Homo sapiens: one gene and its partners. The protein of the gene in region 2 interacts with the protein of the main gene of each other region in a pairwise test. Each region holds a gene or a part of one and is shown on either strand. Other genes may lie near its edges.

Region 1 (3,649 bases), on a different chromosome or scaffold from region 2:
CCACCCCGGGAAGGTCCAGGCGACCGTCCCGCGGAGCCGGCCGCCCACCTGGTCCACCCTGGGAAGAGCCGGCCGCCCACCCAGTCCACCCTGGGAAGGTCCAGGCAACCATCCCGCACAGCCGGCCGCCCACCCCGTCCACCAGGGGAAGGTCCAGGCGACCGTCCCGCAGAGCCGGCGCCCACCCTGTCCACCAGGGGAAGAGCCGGCCGCCCACCCGGTCCACCCCGGGAAGAGCCGGCCGCCCACCCGGCCCACCCTGGGAAGAGCCGGCCGCCCACCCAGTCCACCCCGGGAAGGTCCAGGCGACCGTCCTGCGGAGCCGGCCGCCCACCTGGTCCACCCTGGGAAGAGCCGGCCGCCCACCCAGTCCACCCTGGGAAGGTCCAGGCGACCATCCCGCACAGCCGGCCGCCCACCCCGTCCACCAGGGGAAGGTCCAGGCAACCGTCCCGCACAGCCGGCCGCCCACCCTGTCCACCGGGGGAAGGTCCAGGCAACCGTCCCGCACAGCCGGCCGCCCACCCGGTCCACCCTGGGAAGGTCCAGGCGACCATCCTGCACAGCCGGCCGCCCACCCGGTCCACCGGGGAAAGGTCCAGGAGACTGTCCCGCACAGCCGGCCGCCCGGCCGGTCCACCCTGGGAAAGTCCAGGCCTCTAGGTTCTTACTCCCACGTGTGCATGTGTATGCCACACACAGCTCACAATGACATTGTGGACGCCTGTGCACCTCTGTAGTTCCAGAAAACACTCCCTAGGGGCTGCACCTGGGGGCCTGTGTGGAGAGAGCTGCTAAGGAGTCACGCAGGACCCTCCTGGTGAGCCACGTGGAGACCAAGTCCACTGCCTGGTCTCTCTCCACACCTGGGAGATGGGTACAGCGGCCTGAGTCTGTCTCCAGGAGCGGCTTTCTGCCCAGTGAGCCCTCGGGCCTGGGTGGGTCCTCTACCTGGCAGCTCAGGCCTCCCTCAACGTCCTCACCAGCATGCTCAAGGGACCCAGACTTTCCACTGGCGGCCAAGGGCACTTGGCCTGGGAGAGAGGCTGCCGGGGCTGCCAACCAGGGACATGGAGGTGTGGCTGCCTGTGGGGGTGTGGCTGCCTTCCTGTTCTTACCCAGCATTTCTTTGGGGTCTTGGCCCCTGGTGGGGGTCTTGGCCAAGCAGGCTCGGCTGCCCAGGGACCCTGCCGCAGGTGAGGCAGTGTCCAGGAGCTCATCCAGACCCACTAAGAGCTGCCCCGCTACCCACCCCGGCTCTCTGCATGCCCAGAGCTCTGCGCTCCTTCCCAGGGCTCTCCCCGACTGCCCAAGACCTCCTCAAAGGCCACATCAGCCCAGAACCCTGTGCCCAAAACAGGAGCCCAGTCCGCCGATCATCACTTCCACGTCACCAGCTGCCAACAGCCCTGACAGACCTTCCCTGGCCACAGAGGCCACTCTGGATGGAGCTGGGGGCTGCACTGATGGCCCTGGGAGCCCTCCAGGGGCACTGCCTGACCCCTCACACGACGAGTGCCCTGGCCAGCTGACAGGTTCAGGCCACTGGCTGCCTCCGGCCTCATCCCCTGCTGCAGAACTGCATCTACCCAACTGGTCGTCAACGCTTCCACCCGGACCAGCCACCCCTGGGCAGAGCCCCAACTACTGGGTTCCCGCCGACCCCTGGGGCCCAGGAAACAGTCCCTCCGGCAGACTCTCCTCAGACAAGGAGGACAAATCCTGGGTGGTGATGGCGGTGTCCTCCTCAAGGGGCCCCGAGGGCGGGGAAGGGAAGGCATCCGAGCATGGGTTGGTGTCTTCACCATCACTCTGTGCTTGGGGAGTGGGAGGAGGTGGGGGTAGGGGGGCCTCCCTGTGGATGGAGGACGGGAGGTCGGCACTGCCGTAGGACAGCAACTCGTCCACGGGAGACAGGATCTCAGTCAAGACGTCACCGGCAAGTAGGGGACAGGCTTCCTCCAGGACAGTGGGGGCCCCATTCCCACCAGGCCCAGGCGCCCGGCTCTCAGCTACTGGAGGTGCCAGCCTGCCTGGGTCCCCAGGAGGAGCCTGCAGGGTCACCGGGGTCTCGGGCTCTGGCATGAGGTACGGGAGTTTGCTCTTGGTGGATGGGCTCGGGTCAGCATCCCGGGTTCCCTCCTGGTAGCCAGAAGTCTCTCCTCCTTTGCCGAAATCTGCCCCTTCACTCAAAGAGGTCCACGAAGGAAAGACCAGCAGTGAGTCCGAGTCACCGGCAGAAGAGATTTGCAGCGGGAACACCACACCGGCGGCCTCAGGGGGTGCCTGGAGGGCTTCTCCTGTGTCTGACACCCCCATCAGGCTCTCGCTGGTCCCAGAAGCTTCCAGCCCCTCCCCAGGCCATGGGGACGGAAGAGCCACCTGGGGCTCCATGCCGCTTCTGACACCCCCTTTCAGGCTCTCGCTGGTCCCAGAAGCTTCCCGCCCCTCCCCGGACCGTGGGGAGGGAGGAGCCACCTGGGGCTCCACGCCGCTTCCAAGGCCCAGTGAGCCACCTGCAGGCAGGGAGCTCCCCGAGGCTGGCTTGGCCCCGGTACAGGGTTCTGGCAGGTCCTCCTCGCAGTCCTCCTCCCAAACTTTGCTGGAGGCCTCTGACAGCTCTGACCCTGACCTTGGAGAGGGGATGTCTGGGAAAGGCAGTAGCCAGCCTGCCTTTGGGCTTTGCTCCGGCGCTGAAACTTCTGCCATGGCCGTGTCCAAGGAGGAGCCACGCAGGGGGCCGGCCCTGCGGCCCTGGGGCCTCTGCCAGGTCACCCATCCTCCACCCCCAGGAGCACTGCCTGGCCGAGGCTCACCCTGGTTTGACCGCCAGGACAAAGGCAGGCCAGCTTCCCCCGAGGAGTGTCGGGCAGAGAGCTCTCCAGGCCAGCTGAAACCTTCGTCTGGGGAGTCTTCAGCTTCCAAGCTGGGAAGAGAGCTGGAGCTCCCAGAAAGCTGGATCAGGGTAGCCGCTGCTTTCTGGAACTCCCAGAGAGAGGGACAGGACAGGCTGCTCACAGAGCCTGCTGGGGAGGTGTGGGATGACACCGTGGCTTCTTCCGAAGGCCCCCAGCAGGTTCCAGAAGCAGACTCAGAGCCTGGACCGCAGGAGGAGGTGGTGGGGAGAAGGGGACTGCCCTGGTGCAGGATTGGGGGCGCCGCCTCCTCAGGGACCACAGGAGCTGCTAAGAGAGGGGGCAATCAACAGTGGTCACCCTCTGCACCCTGGACCCCATGCATATCCCACGACCCCCAAAGCCAGGAGGTCAGAACAGAGAAACACCCTGAACAGAGGCAGGAAAAGCGTCGAGGGTGCCAGCGTGTTCGACCCTTGTGATTCCAACCCAGGGGTTCACCACGCCCACCCCCACCCACACGCAATGAGTCATGTCCAGGGGCCTTGCCGAGCCTCGGGCACCCGGCCTCATAGCACCACAGCTGTGGTTCAAGGACTGACTGGTTGGCTCTGCCTTGTTTTATTTTCATTAGGGATGTGGGTGGATCCAGACAGAGGATCCCTGACCGTCACTCACCTCCCCTGGCAACCCTGTGATGGGGAGGTGCGTGGGCAGAGCCCCCCAGCTAGGCAGTGGGGAAGGCAGGGGCTGCGTATTGTGGGGAGAAGCTGGCTCTGATGTAGAAATGGCTT
Region 2 (3,649 bases):
TGGGGTCTGAGACGGGAGTCTGGGTAAAGCTGAGACCCCCAGGAACTGGTGGTTAACTGGGTCTGAAGATTCCAAGAGACTGGGGAGCAGAGTGACAGGTGAAGGGGTCAGTCTGAGAGTTCACCAGGACCTGGAAACTAGGAGGTTGTGAGTTTGAGACCTCTAGGATCTGGGACTATGAGTTTGGGTGGATCTCACCTGGGAAGTAGGGACGTGGGAGATGAGTGTGTCTGAAACCCCTGGTGGTTGGGATTGGGAGGCTGGGTGAAACTGTCATCCTTGGGTGCTGACTACATCTGAGATCCATGGGGCTGACTGTGTCTGAGAATCCTGGAGCTCCCAAGCTAGAATCTGGGTGAGCATGAGACTTCTTATGGATGGGAGCTGAGTGAGTTTGAACCGCGTAGCAGCTAGGGCCAGGAGTCTAGTCGTGCCTGAGATCTTGTACGCTGGGATAGAGGGGTTGACTGTGTCTGAGGCCCCTGAGGGTAGTGACCTGGCGTCTGGGTGAACCTGAGATTGCTGTTGGCTGGATAGTCTGAGACCCACAGGTGCTGAGAACATGCTGCTGGGTGGTCAAACAGAGAGTCTGTACGGTTATATGCACCCCAGGAGAGGCTGAGGTGTAAAATGGGCTCCCCTGGTCTCCACAGAGCTTGGCAGAGCTGAGAGATCAGCGGCAGGGGGAGCGCCTGGAACATGCAGCAGCTTTGCGGGCCCTACAAGATCAGGTATATTGTACTGCGTGGGCTCAGGGAGCTGGGGTTCAGGATGGGGGCAGCCTGAGTGGGTACTACATAGTCAGGCAAGGTCCCAGGGATCCTGCTTCCCCCAGGCCTTCGTGTGTGTGTGTGTGTGTGTGTGTGTGTGTGTGTGTGTGTGTGTGTGTGTGTGTGTCCTTTCTTTCTTGGTCGTGGGTAGGTCCTGTCCCCCTGTTCTGGACCCACTCTCACCTGCTGTGGACGTGGGGCCAGGTATCCATCCAGAGTGCAGATGCACAGGAACAAGTGGAAGGGCTTTTGGCTGAGAACAATGCCTTGAGGACTAGCCTGGCTGCCCTGGAGCAGGTAAAGAACACCTGGGGGCCCTTGCTGATCCCTCTCCAGTTCCCCCATCTCCATCTGCTTCTGGTCCACATCAGGGTAGGGTGGTCTGGACCCCATGCTGTTCTCCTGTCTTTGTTTCTGTTGCTCCTTTCTGTTGGCGTCCAGCCCTCTTCTCTCTGGCCATCCATCCCTACTTTTTTTTTTTTTTAACTTTTAAAAATTTTATTGGGGAGGCTGAGGCAGGAGAATTGCTTGAACCAGGACCCAGGAGGCAGAGGTTTCAGTGAGCCGAGATCGCACCACTGTACTCCAGCCTGGGCGACAGAGCAATACTCTGTCTCAAAAAAAAAAAAAAAAAAAAAAGGGCGTGGTGGCTCATGCCTGTAATCCTAGCACTTTGGGAGGCCAAAGATGTGTGGATGGCCTGAGCTCAGTTCAAGACCAGCCTGGGCAACACGGTGAAACCCCATCTCTACTAAAATACAAAAAATTAGCTGGGTGTGGCGGTGTGTGCCTGTAATCCCAGCTACTCGGGAGGCTGAGACAGGAGAATCTCTTGAACCCAGGAGGCGGAGGTTGCAGTAAGCCGAGATCGTGCCATTGCACTCCAGCCTGGGCAACAGAGCGAGACTCCGTCTAAAAAAAAAAAAAAAAAAAAAGCCGGGCATGGTGGCTCAATTCTGTAATCCTAGCACTTTGGGAGGCCGAGGAGGGCGGATCACCTGAGGTCAGGAGTTCGAGACCAGCCTGACCAACATAGAGAAACCCCGTCTCTACTAAAAATACAAAATTAGCTGGGTGTGGTGGTGGGCACCTGTAATCCAAGCTACTCGGGAGGCTGAGGTGGGAGAATTGCTTGAGCCCAGGAGGTGGAGTGTGCGGTGAGCCGAGATCGTGCCATTGCACTCAAGCCTGGGCAACAAGAGTGAAACTCTGTCTCAAAAAAACAAAAAACAAAACGAAAAAAAACTTATTGGCCGGGCATGATGGCTCACACCTGTAATCCCAGCACTTTGGGAGGCAGAGGTGGGCGGATCACCTGACATCAGGAGTTTGAGACCAGCCTAGCCAACATGGCAAAACCTTGTCTCTACTAAAAATACAAAAATTAGGCCAGGCGCAGTGGCTCACGCCTATAATCCCAGCACTTTGGAAGGCTGAGACGGGCGGATCACCTGGGGTTCGGAGTTCGAGACCAGCCTGGCCAATATGGTGAAACCCCGTCTCTACTAAAAATACAAAAAAAAATAGCTGGGCATGGTGGCGCACACCTGTAATCCCAGCTACTCGGGAGGCTGAGGCAGGAGAATTGCTTGAACCTGGGAGGTGGAGGTTATAGTGAGCCGAGATTGTGCCACTGCACCCCAGCCTGGGTGACAGAGTGAGACTCCATCTCAAAAAAGAGAAAACAAAATTATTTTGTAGAGACAGGGTCTCACTATGTTACCCAGACTGGCTTAAACTTCTGGCCTCAAGCTATCTTCCCACCTCGGCCTTCCAAAGTGCTGGGATTATAGGTGTGAGCCACTGTGCTTGGCCTATCTCTGCTTTTTTTTTTTTTTGTAGACGGAGTTTCGGTCTTGTTGTCCAGGCTGGAGTGCTATGGCACGATCTCGGCTCACTGCAACCTCCGCCTCCCAGGTTCAAGCGATTCTCCTGCCTCAGCCCTCCCAAATAGCTGGGACTACAGCCGTGTGCCACCATGCCCAGCTAATTTTTGTATTTTTAGTAGAGACGGGGTTTCACCATCTTGGCCAGGCTGGTCTCGAACTCCTGACCTCATGATCCACCCGCCTCGGCCTCCCAGAGTGCTGGGATTACAGGCATGAGCCACCGCGCCCGGCTTCTGCTTTTCTTTGTTTCTAGTTTCTCTCTAGTAAAGTGCATGAAATGTACTAATCTTAAGTGTACACTCAGTGAATCCTCTCTTCGTCTCTCTCTTTTTTTTCTCTCTCTCTCCCCGCCACCATAGCCACCACCCAGATCAAAGTATAAAGCACTTTTAGTACCCCAGAAGGTCCCCTTTACCCCTTCAAAGTCAGTACTCCCCCAGAAGTAACCATTATTCTGATCTCTAGCAACATAAGATTCATTTCGCTTGTTCTTTAACTTCATATAAATGGAATCAGCTGCTCTTTGTCTCTGACTTCTTTCTGGCAGCACTATGTAAGTTTATCCACGTGGCAGCACAGATCTGTTCTCTTACTGTTGTGTGGTATTCCATTGTATGAACATACCACATTTACCCATTCTCTTCATTGTTTTTCTGTTTGAAATTTCCTCTCTCTTCCTGGTTCTCTTCCCACCTCCCTCCCTGTTTCCCTGGAACTAGGGGGCTCATACCCTGTCCCTGGCCCCTGGGGTCCCTTTCACTCTACTTCTCATCACCACTACTTTCTCCAGATCCAAACAGCAAAGACCCAAGAACTGAATATGCTCCGGGAACAGACCACTGGGCTGGCAGCTGAGTTGCAGCAGCAGCAGGCTGAGTACGAGGACCTTATGGGACAGAAAGATGACCTCAACTCCCAGCTCCAGGTAACACCTTTGGCTCTGGCCTGTCTCTTCCTAGTTCCCTAGTAATGGCCCAGTGAAGTCCCCAG
Region 3 (3,649 bases), on a different chromosome or scaffold from region 2:
CAAGCTACCAACAGGATGTCACTGAGCACAGAGTTGGGAAGAGAAGCAAACAGGTGACCCTTGCCAGCCAGGGCACACCAACTGCAGTCCCCACTGTTTCCCTAACACATAACAATATGTCAAACATAGGAGCTAGATGTTCAGTGGATGACTGAAATACAGTTATTAACTGGTTAGGACTTGATCATATGCAATAAATTGGTGAAATTCCTTGAAATCTAATTGTCGTTATATAACCAGTAGCACCCCTTTCCTACACATGCACACATATTGCCCCTCCTATTCTTGAATGAAAGTGATGAAAACAGTCACCATGATGTAATGGGAAGTGCCTATGCCTTCCCTGGGCAGGTTGTCTGCTAACTCATGCAAATCCCAATTTTGTGATTTATTAGATACATGACAAGGGATCACTTACTTTACCTCTGTCTGCCTCAGTTTCCTCAGAGAGTTGGACTAAATCATCTCTAGAGTTTGTTCTAGTCTCAAATTTGTAAAGCTTAATTAGTATATAATTTTACTCCCTCATTCCCTCAATTTTCATTATTCCAGTACTGAACTTTGAGTTAGATGTTGTGCTATATAATGGAAATACAAAGAGGAATACTACATGACATGCCTTGGCTGATGAGACTCTCCATGTGGTGTTGCTTTTTTTTTTTTTTTTCTTGAGATGGAGCCTTGCTGTGTTGCCCAGGCTGGAGTGCAGTGGCGCGATCTTGGCTCACTGCAACCTCCACCTCCCGGGTTCAAGCGATCCTCCTGCCTCAGCCTTAGCTTCCCAAGTAGCTGGGATTACAGGCACCCGCCGCCACGCCCGGCTAATTTTTGTATTTTTAGTAGAGATGGGGTTTCACCATGTTGGCCAGGCTGGTCTTGAACTCCTGACCTCAGGTGATTCACCTGCCTTGGCCTCCAAAAGTACTGAGATTACAGGTGTGAACCACCGCGCCCAGCCTCTCCATATGTTTGTTTGTTTGTTTATTTGTTTGTTTTAATAAACATCTTATCTCATTGAGATCATAAGTGTACACCTGTTGTCTGTTATTTTTCCTCATGGGTTATGAAGCCAAACAGAATCATGTAATTGTATCAAAGGCCATGATTTTAGTTTTTCACAAACTTTAGCACTTTGACACATAAAGCTATTGTGCTAATAACTCCCTAGGTGAAATTAAACAAGGCTGTCCTGATCAGCAAGCAGTTCTGTTAAAAAAGTATCACCAAGCTAATGTTAATGGTTTGGAAAGAAGCGTTGGTGGATGTCTAGGCCATGCAGCTCTCTGAGGCAGGTTCAGTCTCAATTTTTAGAGAGTGTGTAGTTCATTTGAGATGATTAAAGTCTGAAAATATCCTTTTGAGTTTAAGTCTAGGAAGTATTTATCCTGGTTCTCTCACACACATTTTTATATAAAAGTCATTAAGAATGGCTTGGATTTTGTGTCTTCCTTCAAGGCCAAATCTACCTATTGGCTCTACTGCCTTCTTTGTTCCCATCCACTGTGATTTCTGCCTTTTCTAAATTCCTGTTTTAATCCATACCACAGAGTTTAGCACTTAATTTTTAAAAGGTACATTGGTTTCCAGTAGGAATTACTGTTGGGAACATTTTTCAGTTGCTGAAAGCTCTTTTTAAAACGAAAATTTGTTTTGTTTTTGACAGGGGCTGATAACATCCGGAAATACTGGAGCCGCTACTACCAAGGATCTCAAGGGGTAATATTTGTATTAGACAGTGCCTCTTCAGAGGATGATTTAGAAGCTGCTAGAAATGAGCTGCACTCAGCTCTTCAGCATCCACAGTTATGCACTTTACCCTTTTTAATATTGGCCAATCATCAAGACAAGCCAGCAGCTCGCTCAGTACAAGAGGTATGTCTCATTAGCATGACAACTCTTTGTCTTCCTTGCTTGTACTTTTGCTGCCACGTTGGAACCTGGAAAAATGCATGTAATTAGGAATGTGCTGGTTATGCTGCTTTCAACATGAAACCTTAGTTTTCATAGGAAGCAGAAAGCCTATATCAATCTGTTAGCACTTGTTTACATACCTAACCCTACTTGGAGAGCACAGAGTTTTCTAGCTATTTAGCAATGGTTAAAAGATGTTTCTGGTTATATTTTTCATCTATTTTGAGGGGCTAAAGGCCTGGTTATTTAATGTTGTTTTAACCTGTGGACTTAGTTCATTCTCTTCTTCAGCTTTTCTAGGAACATATCGTGAGTATTTCCATGCATTACTCGCCTTCAGGTGTCATGTTCTTGTTCCTCTGAAGTGTTCAATGTTGACTAGGATTAATGGATCCTATTCTGTAATCTGCTAGGCTGAAAATTGATGTCTTGCAAATTCCATGCCATCAAATACATTTTAACATGGAACCAATGTTTATCTTCCTCATTTAATTTTATTTCTTAGCTTGTATCTCTCCTATAAAAGCATGAGACTAATTCTAGGCAAATAGAGTCTCAGCCAATAGAGCTTGTGATTCATGGTACTGCAGTAATGAGATATGTGAATAGTTTTTAAAACTTAAATTATAGTGAATTATAACGTAAGTACAGTGAAATCAAAACTCCTGATGTATTCCTTTATACTTGTAACTTTCAGGATATGATTTCCCCTCTCCTTCAGAAAATTGCATGCTTCCTCAAGTGATTTTGGAATGAGATGATTAATATGAACAATCTTGCCTTTCAGCCTGAAAAATAAATGAGGAGCCAAGGACATAACATGTTCTAACTCCAGACCTCCCTCACACTTAGTGTGTGACCCACGGCAGATAGCCTATTCTTGTGCCTGGCTTCTCACCTCTAAAATGAGAATAATCCAATTTATTATGATAAGTTAATAGGATTAATTTGGATAATTTACTTTGAAGTTTAAACACCTAAGTAGAAGAACCATATAAATAGAGTTTTTATTCAAATTTTAGAAACACAGTTTAAAAAAAAGAAAGGCAAGGACCCATTATTCAACAGACAGAGCTCATGTCTCACTTTAGTTGCCTCATTCAGCATTAAGTACGTAGCACCTTTTAAAGAATAGAGTTTGAAAAATACCTTATAGATAATATTAAGTAATTAAGTAAAAAACAGCAATAAAAATCTATTCAGAAAGTCATTAATGTGAAGATCTTCAGCATTATAATGATGGTGTCTCCTAATGTGCTTTTAAGACCTTAGTTTGTAAATCTTTTAACTTCTCAGCATCAGTTTTTCTGCCTATAGAGTAGATATAATAGTATGTAATGAAGGGTAGTTTATGATTATAAGGTCGTTTGCTGAGAATGCATTGTTATTCAGCTATTCATTCTAAAAAATCTTGTAATATGTATGTGTACACTACTACATGTAGACAGTATAATGTGTGTATGTAATATATACATAATACATATACACATTGATAAAACATAGATATAAGTGCCATTTTAACTTCAGATAACTTTATTCAAGTTATTTGCAATATCTGAAAAAAGATTTTTTCTTTCTGCTTTTAAAGTTATGAACCTGTGTATCTGTTTTCCTTAGACATCATATAATTGAAAGTAATGTATCTTTAAACCTAACATATGACTTATGGTTACCCTCCATAGGAATGAAAGATGATCACATTGAATAAAGGAAGCTTTTAGCAATTAATTGCTTCTGA

The links.
Region 1: the proteins of GRIPAP1 (region 2) and CCDC187 interact in a two-hybrid assay, tested with the Homo sapiens proteins (one large-scale study listed by BioGRID).
Region 3: the proteins of GRIPAP1 (region 2) and ARL15 interact in a two-hybrid assay, tested with the Homo sapiens proteins (one large-scale study listed by BioGRID and IntAct).

What each region holds. Positions count from the first base shown.
Region 1 is NC_000009.12:136,251,950-136,255,598, forward strand, and holds part of CCDC187 (coiled-coil domain-containing protein 187), read right to left. Parts: intron 3,186-3,649; coding exon 1,645-3,185; 3' UTR 1-1,644.
Region 2 is NC_000023.11:48,985,203-48,988,851, reverse strand, and holds part of GRIPAP1 (GRIP1-associated protein 1), read left to right. Parts: intron 1-653; coding exon 654-731; intron 732-974; coding exon 975-1,067; intron 1,068-3,449; coding exon 3,450-3,584; intron 3,585-3,649. UniProt on the Homo sapiens protein: Regulates the endosomal recycling back to the neuronal plasma membrane, possibly by connecting early and late recycling endosomal domains and promoting segregation of recycling endosomes from early endosomal membranes.
Region 3 is NC_000005.10:54,111,425-54,115,073, reverse strand, and holds part of ARL15 (ADP-ribosylation factor-like protein 15), read left to right. Parts: intron 1-1,663; coding exon 1,664-1,872; coding exon of another isoform or gene 1,873-1,959; exon of another isoform or gene 1,960-3,639; intron 3,640-3,649.